2 linked regions of the Homo sapiens genome follow. The protein of the gene in region 1 purifies or fractionates together with the protein of each later gene. This does not show direct contact. Each region holds a gene or a part of one and is shown on either strand. Other genes may lie near its edges.

Region 1 (7,029 bases):
GAAAATAGGTTCCCTTCCTTCAACTGCCAAAAAGTAAAATCAAGGCAGTTTCATTCTGACTTTTGTCACTGTAATTGATAATAGTTTTTTTATCTCAAAGGGGAGAATATTTTATATGCTAGTGTAGCACAGCAAAAGTAATCAAATATAAGAAGAAAGAACAAATGTATTCAGAGTCTCTTTTAATGTTTACTAAATCTAGTTAACAAGCTTTAAATGTATTACTGTATGTAAATATATGTCTTGACCCATATATTTGTGGAGGAAAAGAGGTGTTCTTTCCTGTTTTGATACTTGATTTTCAATGGTTTTTTGTTCATATTTGTCTTTTTTTTTATAACCATAATAGACAGGGAAAAATGCATTTTTTGTGGGAGATCTTGGAAAGATTGTGAAGAAACACAGTCAATGGCAGAATGTAGTGGCTCAGATAAAGCCATTCTACACAGTGAAGTGCAACTCTGCTCCAGCTGTACTTGAGATTTTGGCAGCTCTTGGAACCGGATTTGCTTGTTCCAGTAAAGTAAGTATTTTTCATTTTTTAACTAAACTGAAACATTGAATAATTTAACTTAATGTAGTTACAGCGGTTAGAGAACAAATGCAAGGAAGTTTGACTTTTGGATGGAGTTTCAAAATAATTGTTTAAATCTCCAGCCTCATGTTGGAAAATTACAAGCTTTTCAAGTGCACCAATGAAAGGGAAGTTTCAGTGTAATGAGCCTTTGAAACGTTTTATCTTTATTAATTGAAAACTTTAATTTGTTCCTCATTCTTAGGCTAGAGCTACTTCTAGACCAAACTACAGCAGATATCTAAACTCTGAGATTTCTTTGGTGCTTCTTTTTAGTAATGTTTAGGCCAGGAGCGATGGCTAACACCTGTAATCCCACCACTTTGAGAGGCTGAGGTGAGAGTTGCTTGAGCCAGGAGTTTAGGATCAGCCTGGGCAACATAGTGAGACCTCGTCTCACTTTTTATTTATTTATGTTTTTAAATAAAAATATTGGTTTGGCTAGGCACAGTGACTCATACCTGTACTCGTAGCACTTTGGGAGGCTGAGGCAGGAGGATCACTTGAGCAGCCCCAGAGATGGAGGCTGCATTGAGCTATGATTGTGCTATTGCACTTCAGCCTGGAATACAAAGAGTGAGACCCTGGTTTTAAAAGGGGTGGGGGTAATAGTATTAGAGGAAGCATTACCAGAATATGAACTGTGACATTATGTATTCTCACTTTAACCTCATTTTCACAGAATGAAATGGCTTTAGTGCAAGAGTTGGGTGTACCTCCAGAAAACATTATTTACATAAGTCCTTGCAAGCAAGTGTCTCAGATAAAGTATGCAGCAAAAGTTGGAGTGAATATCCTGACATGTGACAATGAAATTGAATTGAAGAAAATTGCACGTAATCACCCAAATGCCAAGTAAGTATAAAATTAAGTACTTGAAAATATTATTTAGCACTTAGAGGGTTGGGTTTGTCTTTTGTCTGGGAAGAAAGGAGCATTTGTGGTAGGGCAATGATGTGTATCATAATTATAACTTATTTAAAGGGCCTCTGTGGGAAACACTAGTAACATTTTATTGGCTCTCTACCTCTGATCCTTCATGTGGAATTGGAATTTAAAAAAATAAGAGCAGTTTGGGGATATGATCTAATAATCTTCAAGGAATCCTTGATAGTTGGTGTGATAATCAAATTAGGGCCATGGCTGTATTTTCATTATTTCTATAACTTTGTTTGATGTTTGATAACGTTAGGAACAGGATAAACTTTGGTCAGCATTTTTTCCTGTTTAGCTGAGGATTTAATCTACCCTAGGCCATAGTTCTTGAATGGTCATCTTTACTGACAGTGTCTTCGAAGCCTAGACCATAGATTTGGGGGGTTTTGTTTTTAAGGCTAATACTTTTATTTTTGAACATGAAGTTTAATTTTTTACTTGCATCTTCATGTATCCAGAGAATTTTTTTTTTTTCTTGATTAGAAAGTTTACTTTTTAAAGGCTGGGCGCAGTGGCTCACACCTGTAATCCCAGCACTTTAGGAGACTGAGGCTGGTGGATCATTTAAGGTCAAGGTGGCCTGCGCCTGTAATCCCAGCTACTTGGGAAGCTGAGGCAAGAGAATCCCTTGAACCCAGGAGCCGGAGGCTGCAGTGAGCCAAGATCGAGCCACTGCACTCCAGCCTGGGCAACAGAGCAAGACTCCCTCATAAAAAGGTTTACTTTTTTAAAAGCAAAAAGATTTAAGGCAAATTTTATGTTTTCACAAACTGGTATATCGAGAGGGCTTAAGAATATGCTAAAAGCATATTGAATTATGCAGTTGTTGGCTTACTTTTTAATGAGTTATGTGTGTTTCCGGAAATGAATTCTATCTGTATTTTCTTTGTATGTCTATAATTTTCATACTGACTTTAATGGTGTACTTAAGATATCCTGACAGCATTGATTACTCTGGTAAATCTTTGTGTGGATAAAAGCCTTGTTGGGAAAATTCTAGGGAACCACTTGTTTTTCTAAAAAATATTGTTCTGTGATCCTCTGAAGACAAGCTGTGATTTGTGATGTTTAGTATGTTAGATTGTGGACTGGCATCTTCTTGATGGAGCTGATTCTAACCTTAGAATAATTTTTGCTTTCATCAATCTTGTCCTCTGATTATCAAATTAGGGCCATAGCTGTATTTTCATGGCCATATTATTAACCTTCTTAGTTTATGTAATTATTACATCCATAGGAAAACAGTTACACAAAAAGAATTTGTATATTTTCAACTTCTAGCAGTTTGTAATTACTCAGCTCCTGAAATTAAAGAAATTTAATCAGTTTTAGTCATCTTGTCTTGGTTGCCATGGTTTGGAAGGAAATACCAAATAGATTTGAATCAGTAGACTAGAAGGCTGCTGTTTAAACACATGAAATAATTTTTTAAAAAGCTTTCTGGGTTGGGCGCAGTAGCTCATGCCTGTAATCCCAGCACTTGGGGAGGCCGAGGCGGGTGGATCACTTGAAGTCAGGAGTTTGAGACCAGCCTGGCCAACATGGTGAAACCCTGTCTCCACTAAAAATAAAAAAAATTAGCTGGGCGTGGTGGTGCACCCTTGTATTTCCAGCTACTTTGGGAGGCTGAGGCAGGAGAATTGCTTGAACTCAGGAGGCACTCTCATGAGGCGGAGGTTGCAGTGAGCTGAAATTGCGCCACTGCACTCCAGCCTGGGCGACAGAGTGAAACTCCATCTCAGAAAAAAAAGAAAAAAAAATTTAAAAAATGCTTCCTATTTTTTTCCAGTTAGAGACCTGCTGGGATGTAACAATGTTAGTAGGAAGAATGTTTGCAGTAACCATGGAGGTTTAGCTAGTTAGCACAATCAAAGAAATTTGAAGACATTTAAAGCCCTGATATTTTTATTGAAAGACAATGATGGCATTGCTATTCAATTTAGTCTTCCTAGGTGGATTTATGGACTGATGGACTTCATTTGAAAGTAATGTCGTCTTTCATTACAGAGCCCAACCAACTCTTGATGCTACAACAGAGTCTTAACTTGCTGCATTTTCCAAAATCCCATCCTTGTAAGCTTCATGCTTTAGGCCCTAATTGCTAGTTTTTTCTCTATACAGGATTGTTTTTCATTAGGTTCACTTGATTCATCCGTCGCTGGATTTGGGAGCACTGGCAACATAATCAACACACTTCCTACAATCTTCAGGCTTCACATGTGCTGATGATGATGTAAACCAACTCTGCCCCAATCATCTCCCCTTCTCTTAGGGTCTTACTACATATTGCAACAGAAGATAATATTGGAGGTGAAGAGGGTAACATGAAGTTTGGCACTACCCTGAAGAACTGTAGGCATCTCTTGGAATGTGCTAAGGAACTTGATGTCCAAATAATTGGGGTTAAGTGAGTATTTGTTTTAAACTTTTAAAGCTGTGAACATTTTATGGTGGTAACCTGTCTTTCTGGTTATTGATTTAAGACTTTATTTGCATGAAATCTAAGATGCAATTTTTTCTAGTCTTTTAACACACATGTATGTGTTTTCTTCTTAGTTTAGGCAAAACAACTTAAATATGCCTTGTCCCTTTTCATACTGTTTTGTGACTGTACCTCCTTCCCCACAATAAAAAGAATAGCAAATAATATTTTGATTCAGTTAGTGCAGAGTAACTTAAATCGCCGCCTTTTAAATTGGATGGGAGGGGATTTGCTAGAATTCTTAATGAAAATAAAAGTGTCAGACTTTTTTGTCCTTTTAACGATTACTCTGGGGGACTTCAATAAATTAGACTTTGCTTTAGCCTTTTAATTTTATATGTGAGGAAACCGAGACTCCAAGAGGTTCAAATACTTGATAATAGCCTCAGAACTAATTACAGGCATAGTAACACTAAGCCCTAGATGTTATTTGCCAGCCCATTGCTACTTTTACTAAAGTAAAAAGGTCTTGCTTTTTCAAACACTCACAAAGATGTATTGTGTATCTTTCTTTAATTTTATTATTTATTTTTTGAGATAGTATCTCATTCTGTCTCCCATGCTGGAGTGCAGTGGCACGATCACGGCTCACTGCAGCCTCAAACTCCTGGCTCAAGCAATCTTCCTGCCTTGGCCTCCCAAAGTGGTGGGATTACAGATGTGAGCCTCTGTGCCTGGCCTTATTGTGTATCTTTCTATACTACTTTGTACATAAATAGGTGGTAGTCTTTTAAACAAAGAATGGGATCATGCTGTGCCTTACACAATAGATAACATTCCATGTCAGTCTAGTTTTAAGTTTTAATTTAAGTCAACATAAAAATTAATGAAGTACTATCTCGAATAGATGAAGGGAAAAGAAGAATGGACTTTACGGGTACAGTTCTATGGATTTTAGTACTTGTGTGACCACTGCCACAATCAGGAAGTATTCTATTCTGAAACTTTATCACTAGTAATACTAGTGAATAATAGTAATGCTGTTACTCAGCTTGATTAATGTTCATTTTTATTTATTTCACAACAGACACATTTTTGTATTTGGTTGGGTAAAATTGAATGTTCAGTTTTATGCTCAACTGAATGTGATACGATTTGGTAGTGCTTGTTACTTCACTATATAAACATAAAAGTGCCACATATACATAAAAGCACACCTTATTGTATAACCGTGGAACAGTACTGATAATTGACTTATTGTTAAGAATTTTTGTTTATAGAATTACAGTTTTATCTTGGCATTGCCTTTTCTATAAAGCTGGTACTGTAACTTTTGGGTAATTAGAAGCTAATGCTTCTAATACTTTAAATATTTGGTAAAGTTAATGGGGATACTTAATGGTATGAATATGATGAGTGACAGTTGAAAGAAATTACAGGAGGTGTCTCTACAACTTTCTGCTCCTTTAAATTTAGTATTCTATGTGTTTCAGATTTCATGTTTCGAGTGCTTGCAAAGAATCTCAAGTATATGTACATGCTCTATCTGATGCTCGATGTGTGTTTGACATGGCTGTAAGTTCTTTCTTTTAAGTTATTTTGATATTTTATTTTAGCCAGGATGTTAAGTTAAAGACTAAGTATTTTCTGCCTGTGTGAATTACTCTGACTACATTCAACGTGACACACACCTCATTTTTATTATATAAGCATTCAGAGCTCTGTACAGTCACACCTTTTAAGCAGGTAAAGGAGTGAAATAGTAATTTACTTGCATAAGTCTAGAAGAGAGTACAAATAAAATCAAAGAGACAGCATACCTAACATTGAATAATCTGTTTCTATCAGTAAAAAACCAAGAATTTGCTGTACTAAAGATCAGAACAGATATTTACCTCCCTAGGAGGGGGTTTTTAAAATGTTCTCATATCCATTACAATTTGGAAAAACATTTAAATTTTTTTTTTCCATCTCTAGGGAGAAATTGGCTTTACGATGAACATGTTAGACATTGGTGGAGGATTCACGGGAACTGAATTTCAATTGGAAGAGGTAAACTTCTCAGTAGATGACATTAACAGAATAATTGCTTTCTTTGTTACTTAAGTGGTGGATGTGTAGAGCAGGATTTTTACAATGGCAGAAACTAAACCCTATAACATCTCTTTAAAATTATGTTCTTAGAAAAGGAATAGGCAGTTAGTAGACCTAGCTAACTTTGAAAAGTTTGATAGAATTCTTTGAACATTATCATAAAACATTTTCTATTTCAGTTGTGTTTCTGTACTTAATGGCACAAATGATTTAATACTTAGAAAACTTCACTACTACCTTTTTTTTTTTTTTTTTAAAGTCTTCCTGTGTTGCCCAGGCTGGAGTGGAGTGGCGCAATTATAGCTCACTATAGCTTCCAACTCCTGGGCTCAAGCGATCCTCCTGCTTCAACCTCCCAAGTAGCTGGGACTTAAAAAAAAAAAAAAAAAAAAATTGAGTCTTTCTATATTGCCCAGGCTGGTCTCGGAACTCCTGGCCTCAAATGATCCTCCTGTCCCCAAGTGATCCTCCTGCCCCAGCCTCCCAAAGTTTTGGGGTTACAGGTGTGAGCCACCACTCCCAGCCAACTTTAGCATTTAGGCCAGATACACGTCACACCTGTTTCTCACCTTCCTGCTCTGCCCTCCTTCCTTCTGTGATATCTAGAAACTATGATTTGAAAATTTTACTTCTGTTTTTAGTGATCAAGTATAGAAAAATGACTTAAAAAAAAACAAAAACAAATACCAGTGGGTATTTGTTATTAGAGCTATTTTTAAAATTAATGCCATTCTGATAGTTACAAAATAAACTGACTTGAAAGCATGCCTAATTAATTGCTTGGAGATAACTACAAAGTTGCTAAGGTTCATGATCTGTGATTGGAACTGCTTCATTTTCCTAGAAAATTTTGTTAATATCAATCTCTGAATATTGCGAATTATCTAATCCAATATTGAAACCATACTGTGGCATTTAAAATCCATAGGTTAATCATGTTATCAGCCCTCTGTTGGATATCTACTTTCCTGAAGGATCTGGTGTTAAGATAATTTCAGAACCC
Region 2 (7,029 bases), on another chromosome or scaffold:
ACCATCATAGCTGACTGTCACCTCAAATTCCTGGACTCAAGCGATCCTTGTGCCTCACTGAGCCTCCTGGGTAGCAAGGAATACCTGCACATACCACCCAGCTAATTTTACTTCATTTATTTTTATTTATTTATTTAGGCAGAGTCTCGCTCTGTCACCCAGGCTGGAGTGCAGTAGTGAGATCTTGGCTCACTGCAACCTCTGCCTCCCGGGCTCAAGTGATTCTCGTGCCTCAGCCCCCTGAGTAGCTGGGACCACAGGCGTGTGCCAGCACACTCACCTAATTTTTGTATTTTTAGTTGAGACAGGGTTTCGCCGTGTTGGCCGGCTGGTTTTGAACTCCTGCCATCAAGTGATCCGCCTGCCTTGGCCTCCCAAAGTGCTGGAATTATAGGAATGAGCCACCATGCCTGGCTGTCCTGCCTTTTTAAATAAGAGCTTATATTCAAGGTGACATTAGACACTTAATGAATCGTGAGATTTTAGACAGTGGCAGTGCTGTGAAGGAAATAACTCTGACGTGTAATCTTGCCTCCATCCCTGTCACTGTGCCGAAAAAGATCACTGCTCACTATCTTTCTGTTTTTTAAACTTAACTATGGGTTTTTAAGACTTAGAAAAAAGGAGAGAGGCTAGCAGAGGGAACCATTGCTCAGTGACAGCGGCTGTCAGGCACAACAGCACAAATGATGCTGTTTTTATATTCCCCTTTCCTCCCCCTTTTCTTTCTCACTTTGGTGTTTGAAAGCCCCTTCCAGACATTGCATCACATCACCCTGGGCCTGGCCCTGGTGGTGCTTCGCTGTGCCATCCTCATCTGTGAGCCTGCCCGGTGACCGTGCTGCACCTGTCCTTGATGCCCTGTGTCTTCCAGGTCTGCTCCTCCCCTGCTGCTCTTCCTGTTCCATGTTCTTTGGCTGGTTTTTCTTTCTTCTTCCAGCTGTGTGACTCCTTTTCAAGCCTTTGTCCAGTTAAACATTTTACCAAGAATGTAGTGTTCTTCCTGCATTTCATTAGGAAGAGAAAAAGGCTTGCAAACATTCTGAGAAAAAATGTTGTTCACCGAGGCTATGTGTTTTGGAAATGCCATTTAGATGTTTTGCTGCTTTTAATCTTTGGCATTAATTTCAGTTGCTGTCATAAAAAAGAATTAAGACATAAACCAGAAAAGTAATTAAATGTGTCTGCAAAGGAAAAACAGAAACTGCAGAATATGGTATTTCAAGGTCATAAATTACAAATGTGCATATTTATTATTCCCCTATAAAATGTTAATTAAAAAATTTTCATATTTACTTGATGTAACAGAAATGAAACCTGTAATGAGGGATCTAATTTCTTTTTCTTTTTTCATTCCAGAATGTATGACAACATGTCCACAATGGTGTACATAAAGGAAGACAAGTTGGAGAAGCTTACACAGGATGAAATTATTTCTAAGACAAAGCAAGTAATTCAGGGGCTGGAAGCTTTGAAGAATGAGCACAATTCCATTTTACAAAGTTTGCTGGAGACACTGAAGTGTTTGAAGAAAGATGATGAAAGTAATTTGGTGGAGGAGAAATCAAACATGATCCGGAAGTCACTGGAGATGTTGGAGCTCGGCCTGAGTGAGGCACAGGTACGAGTGAGAATGACTCAGACGTTATCAGGAACTTTTGATGGTAAAATGGAGACTTGTTTGAAATAAGCAGTTTCACTAAAGAAGAGGAAAGATGATTATAGAATAACAGATCCAGGCCGAGTGCGGTGTGGCTCAGGCCTGTAATCCAAGCACTTTGGGAGGCTGAGGCAGGTGGATCACTTGAGGTCAGGAGTTTGAGACCAGCCTGGCCAACATAGCGAAACCCTGACTCTACTAAAAATACAAAAATTAGCCGGGCCTGGTGGCTGGCGTGTGTAATCCAGCTACTAGGCAGGCTTGAGGCAGGAGAATCACTTGAACCTGGGAGGCAGAGGTTGCAGGGAGCCAAAATTGCATCACTGCACTCCAGCCTGGGTGACAGAGCGAGACTTTTTCTCAAAGAAAAAACAAAACAAAACAGATCATGTGTTCTGTATGTTAATAAATTACTATTGATTTGGGCCTATCAGAATTGTATTGATTGATTGATTGAGATGGAGTTTTGCTCTTGCTGCCCAGGCTGGAGTGCAGTGATGCAGTCTCGGCTCACTGCATCCTCTGCCTCCTGGGCTCAAATGATTCTCCTGCCTCAGCCTCCCAAGTAGCTGGGATTACAGGCATGGGCCACCACACCTGGCTAATTTTGTATTTTTAGTAGAGACAGGGTTTCTCCATGTTGGTTAGGCTGGTCTTGAACTCCCAACCTCACGTGATCCACCTGCCTCAGCAAAGTGTTGGGATTACAGGCGCGAGCCACCATGCCCGGCCTCTGAATTTTATTTTTATTTTTATTTTTTTGAGACAGTGTTTGCTCTCGCCGCCCAGGCTGGAGTGCAATGGCTCAATCTCAGATCACTGCAACCTCTGTCCCCCGGGTTCAAGTGATTCTCCTGCCTCAGCCTCCCAAGTAGCTGGGATTACAGGCACATACCACCATTCCTGGCTAATTTTTTGTATTTTTAGTAGAAACTAAAATGTTGGCCAGGCTGGTCTTGAACTCCTGACCTCAGGGCCTCTCTGAATTTTGAAAAGCGGATCCAAAATAGTGGATACTGCTGTGTATCATTTAGGATTTGATTTGGCTGCCAGTATCAAAAAAACAAAAACAGTGGCTTAAACCACAAGATGTTTGTCAAATAAGTACTGAGGTACACTCTCCTGGACGGGTTCTGTAGCTACACAGTCATCGGGGATACTCAGGTTCCTAACATCTGCCACACTGCACCTTGGCAGCCTGTCTTGGGGACTGAGAGTGAGCTCCATGTGGCCCTGTTCTAGCATAGGGGAAGGGAAAGGAAGGACGTGCCTCCTTCCTTGAAGGCTGCTGCTTTGATGATGTGTACAGCAGTGCTTACATTGCATTGGCCAGACCTTATGGCTGTACCTGGGTGAGTGGGAGACTGGGGAATGTTGTCTTCCCACTTACAGTGGCAGGTCCTTAAGCCTAAGGAAGGAGAATGGACACTGGCCAGTGGGTGATGGTCTCTGCAATCCCAGGGCCAGATTGCTTCATATCTTTGACTAACCTTTGTTTCTATAATATCATGCTTGACATAGAGATGAAAACACTGGAAACATCTAGGTTTTTAAATACTCTCTCCTGATAACTTCTGGCTCTGTCAGCATATCTTAGGTAAAATTAAATATACCAAAGCTTTGCTTCTTTCTTAGCATTCTCTAGTTTAGTGAGTGAATAGAGCAGAAGAGGGGCTGCTGGCCAGCGGTTTCTGCTTTCATAGAGGAAGTGACTGCCCACACCCTGATTTTAGAGTCTTCATCCTAACCATGTTACAGCCTTGAGTTGCAGAACTGTAGCTCTGTTTGGATATTGTGAACGTATTATTTCTCAAGTTCTGTTACCTTGAGAACAGGTGACATGAATTTAAACTTGCTTTTTTGGTGTCGCAGATAAGAGTTTTAAAAAAAGAAGGAAGAAAAGGTCCCACCTTCTGGAGTTTCAGGTTTTAAACCTAGGAGGATAATAACCTGGTTATTATGTTATGAGAGGGATGGGCAGATGTATGTTCTAAAGAGAGAACAGATTGCTGCCAGCCAGCTCCTAGCTGTTTGTGCTCTTATGCTCCTAGGAACTTGCCACAGCCTCACGCTGGTCTGTTCCAGAAACCAGTGAGCACTCTGTAGGCAGAGCCCTGGAGTGGCCCCTGGATTTTATGACATAAACATAAGCTTATGAGTGCACCAGTGCATTCTTACTCTTGGTGGTAGCTACAGAGATGTCTTCTCTCACCTTGGAACATCAAGGAAGATTTGTATGTGCACTGTTCTCTGACCCCCACTTGCAGCCCTTCACCAACATGCACTCTGTGCGCAGACATGCATGTGTGTACACGAGGTCTTACACATGGGAAAGGGTCTATAAAAAATTATGTTGGGCCCATCTTGATAGAAAGTAAAATAATACAGTTTCATCAGAAGGGTAGCTGTGTTTTCATTGCTAGTTCATTTGGCATGCTCTTCAAAAAAATAAGTATTTTTTTGTAGGCATTCTGAGCGTGTGATATTCTTTATCATACCCTGCTTTGTAGTCTGTGGCTGAAGGGGAAAAGAGAAGTAAATGGCAGATTGTACTTATATGTACTTTGGAGAAAATATCTGCGAGTGTAAGCTACAGCCCCAGCCACAGAATGTTCGCACGGGTGGGAGGGACTCTTGCTGGACAACGTGCCACAGTGCTGCACACGTTTCTGTCTGCTCAGGTTATGATGGCTTTGTCAAATCACCTGAATGCTGTGGAGTCCGAGAAGCAGAAACTGCGTGCGCAGGTTCGTCGTCTGTGCCAGGAGAATCAGTGGCTACGGGATGAACTGGCCAACACGCAGCAGAAACTGCAGAAGAGTGAGCAGTCTGTGGCTCAACTGGAGGAGGAGAAGAAGCATCTGGAGTTTATGAATCAGCTAAAAAAATATGATGACGACATTTCCCCATCCGTGAGTGGCTCTGTAGCAAATGTGGTGCTAATGTTTAAAATGGAGTCACTGGGAAAGTCATAGAGGTTCTGTTTGCCATATTCTTTTCATATTAGAACATATTAGAACATTAGAACATGCAAAAATGTTTTGTAAATATAAGCCACAATCCAGAGAGACACCATTACCTTCAACAAGGTCTGCCCCGAGGTCTGTCCCGAGGTCTGCCCCAGCTTAGGCTCTGGAGCTTCCTTGCCCCTCTGTAGCTTGGCTTCCATGCCATCAGCTGCTGGTCTAGCAGTGGTCCAATCTGGCCGTCTGAATTTGGACTCTGGGCAACCTCTCTGCCCCTTAGGGTGGGTGCTCTTGGCATTGCCATTCTCTTTGAAACTCCCCTGGCCCTCTGGACACCACCTGGCTCTCTTGCCGCCTCTCTCATCCTCCCCTTGGCTTCCCTTGCCAGCTTATCTTTCTGTATCTGCAGGGGAAGAAACGATCTTGGTTTTCTTCTTCTTCTTTTTTTTACAAGGAGTCTCGCTCTGTCACTCAGGCTGGAGTGCAATGGCACAATCTTGGCTTACTGCAACCTCCATCTCCCGGGTTCATGTGATTCTCCTGCCTCAGCCTCTGGAGTAGCTGGGATTACAGGTGTGTGACACCATGCCCAGCTAAGTTTTTTTTTTTTTTTTTTTTTTTTTTAGTAGAGATGAGGTTTCACTGTTTTGGCCAGGCTGGTCTTGAACTCCTGGCCTCAAGTGATCTGCCCACCTCAGCCTCCCAAAGTGCTGGTATTCCAGGTGGGAGCCACCATGCCCAGCCTTCTTTCTCTGTTGGCTCTATTTGGATGTTTATCCTAGTCTCAGTTATTTTTCATTCAACATTTATTTCTGATTCAGTTAACTTTTTTTTTTTTTTTTTTTGAGATGGAGTCTCACTCTGTCACCCAGGCTGGAGTGCAGTGGCACGATCTTGGCTCACTGCAACCTCCACCTCCCGGGCTCCAGCGATTCTCCTGCCTCAGCCTCCCGAGTAGCTGGGACTACAGGTGTGTGCCACCACGCCTGGCCAATTTTTTGTATTTTTAGTAGAGATAGGGTTTCATTGCGTTAGCCAGGATGGTCTTGATCTCCTGACCTTGTGATCTGCCTGCCTCGGCCTCCCAAAGTGCTGGGATTACAGGTGTGAGCCACTGCGCCCAGCCAGTTAACTTCTTTTTATTTTTTTTTTTACTTTTTTTTTGAGACGAAGTCTCGCTTTTGTACCCCAGGCTGGAGTGCAATGGCGCGATCTTGGCTCACTGCAGCCTCCACCTCCTGGGTTCAAGCGATTCTCCCTTCTCAGCCTTCCAAGTAGCTGGGATTACAGGTGCGTACCGCCACGACTGGCTAATTTTTGTATTTTAAGTAGAGATGGGGTTTCACCATGTTGGCCACTCCTGACCTCAGGTCATCCCCCCGCCTCGGCCTCCCAAAGTGCTGGGATTACAGGCGTGAGCCACCACGACCGGCTTCAGTTAACTTCTTTTTAAAGAAAATTTCTAAATTTTGGAATTATTTTATTTTACTTATTTTTAATTTTAAAAATTTTACCCTCCTCTCAAGTTTCCAATGGAATAATTTTAAATTGATTGAAAAGTTGAAAAGTTAGAGAAGAAAATTGATGTGCCCATAACCCAGTCTCCCCTGATCGTCCATAATCATAGAACAGTGGTCAGAACTAAGATATTAACATCAACACTTTACTGTTAACTGAAACACAGACTTGGTTGGATGTCACCAGGCCTTCCACTAGTATCTCTTTTCTGTGCTAGGACCTAGTCCAGTGTTCCACATTGCATTTGGAACTAACGTTTTTTAAATACCTGTATGATGCCAGACATGTTCATGTACATAATCAGAATACTAGAGAGGTGCACATTTGTGTGTCTCGTTCGAATCCCCATCCTAAGACTACTGAAACAGTTTTTTGCGTAGCACCAGCAAACCTGCATTTCCCCTCTGTCTTCATCTGCTTGGGCTACTGTAACAAATACCACGGGCTGGATGGCTTAACATTTATTTTCTCATAGTTCTGGAAGTCCGAGATCAGGGTACCAGCAGGGTCCGGTTCTGGGGAGGGCCTTCTTTCTGGCTTGCAGACTGCTGCCATCTCTTTGTGTTCTCATATGGTACAGAGAGAGAGGGAGTAAGCTCTCTGGTGTCTCTTTTTATGAGGGCACTAATCCCATCATGAGGGCCCCACACTTTCGAGCTCATCTTATCCTGATCACCTCCCAAAGGTTTCATCTCTAAATACCATTACACTGGGGGTTAGGGCTTTAACATAGGAATTTGGGGAGAACACAGTTTAGTTGACAGCATGCTATTTCAAAAGGCTTACCAAAATCCTCCCTCACATCTCCTCTAGGTTAGGGGCCAACTAAATGTTTTGATTTAAAAGATGTGGCTGGGCGCAGTGGCTCATGCCTGTAATCCCAGC

The links. The genes of interacting proteins can lie anywhere in the genome.
Region 2: the proteins of AZIN1 (region 1) and KLC1 purify together in Homo sapiens (affinity purification with mass spectrometry; 3 studies listed by BioGRID and IntAct, with this or other methods). This does not show direct contact.

What each region holds. Positions count from the first base shown.
Region 1 is NC_000008.11:102,833,144-102,840,172, reverse strand, and holds part of AZIN1 (antizyme inhibitor 1), read left to right. Parts: intron 1-349; coding exon 350-523; intron 524-1,256; coding exon 1,257-1,429; intron 1,430-3,631; exon of another isoform or gene 3,632-3,782; coding exon 3,783-3,917; intron 3,918-5,425; coding exon 5,426-5,507; intron 5,508-5,909; coding exon 5,910-5,984; intron 5,985-6,954; coding exon 6,955-7,029.
Region 2 is NC_000014.9:103,653,205-103,660,233, forward strand, and holds part of KLC1 (kinesin light chain 1), read left to right. Parts: intron 1-1,359; 5' UTR 1,360-1,360; coding exon 1,361-1,621; intron 1,622-4,341; coding exon 4,342-4,572; intron 4,573-7,029. UniProt on the Homo sapiens protein: Kinesin is a microtubule-associated force-producing protein that may play a role in organelle transport. The light chain may function in coupling of cargo to the heavy chain or in the modulation of its ATPase activity.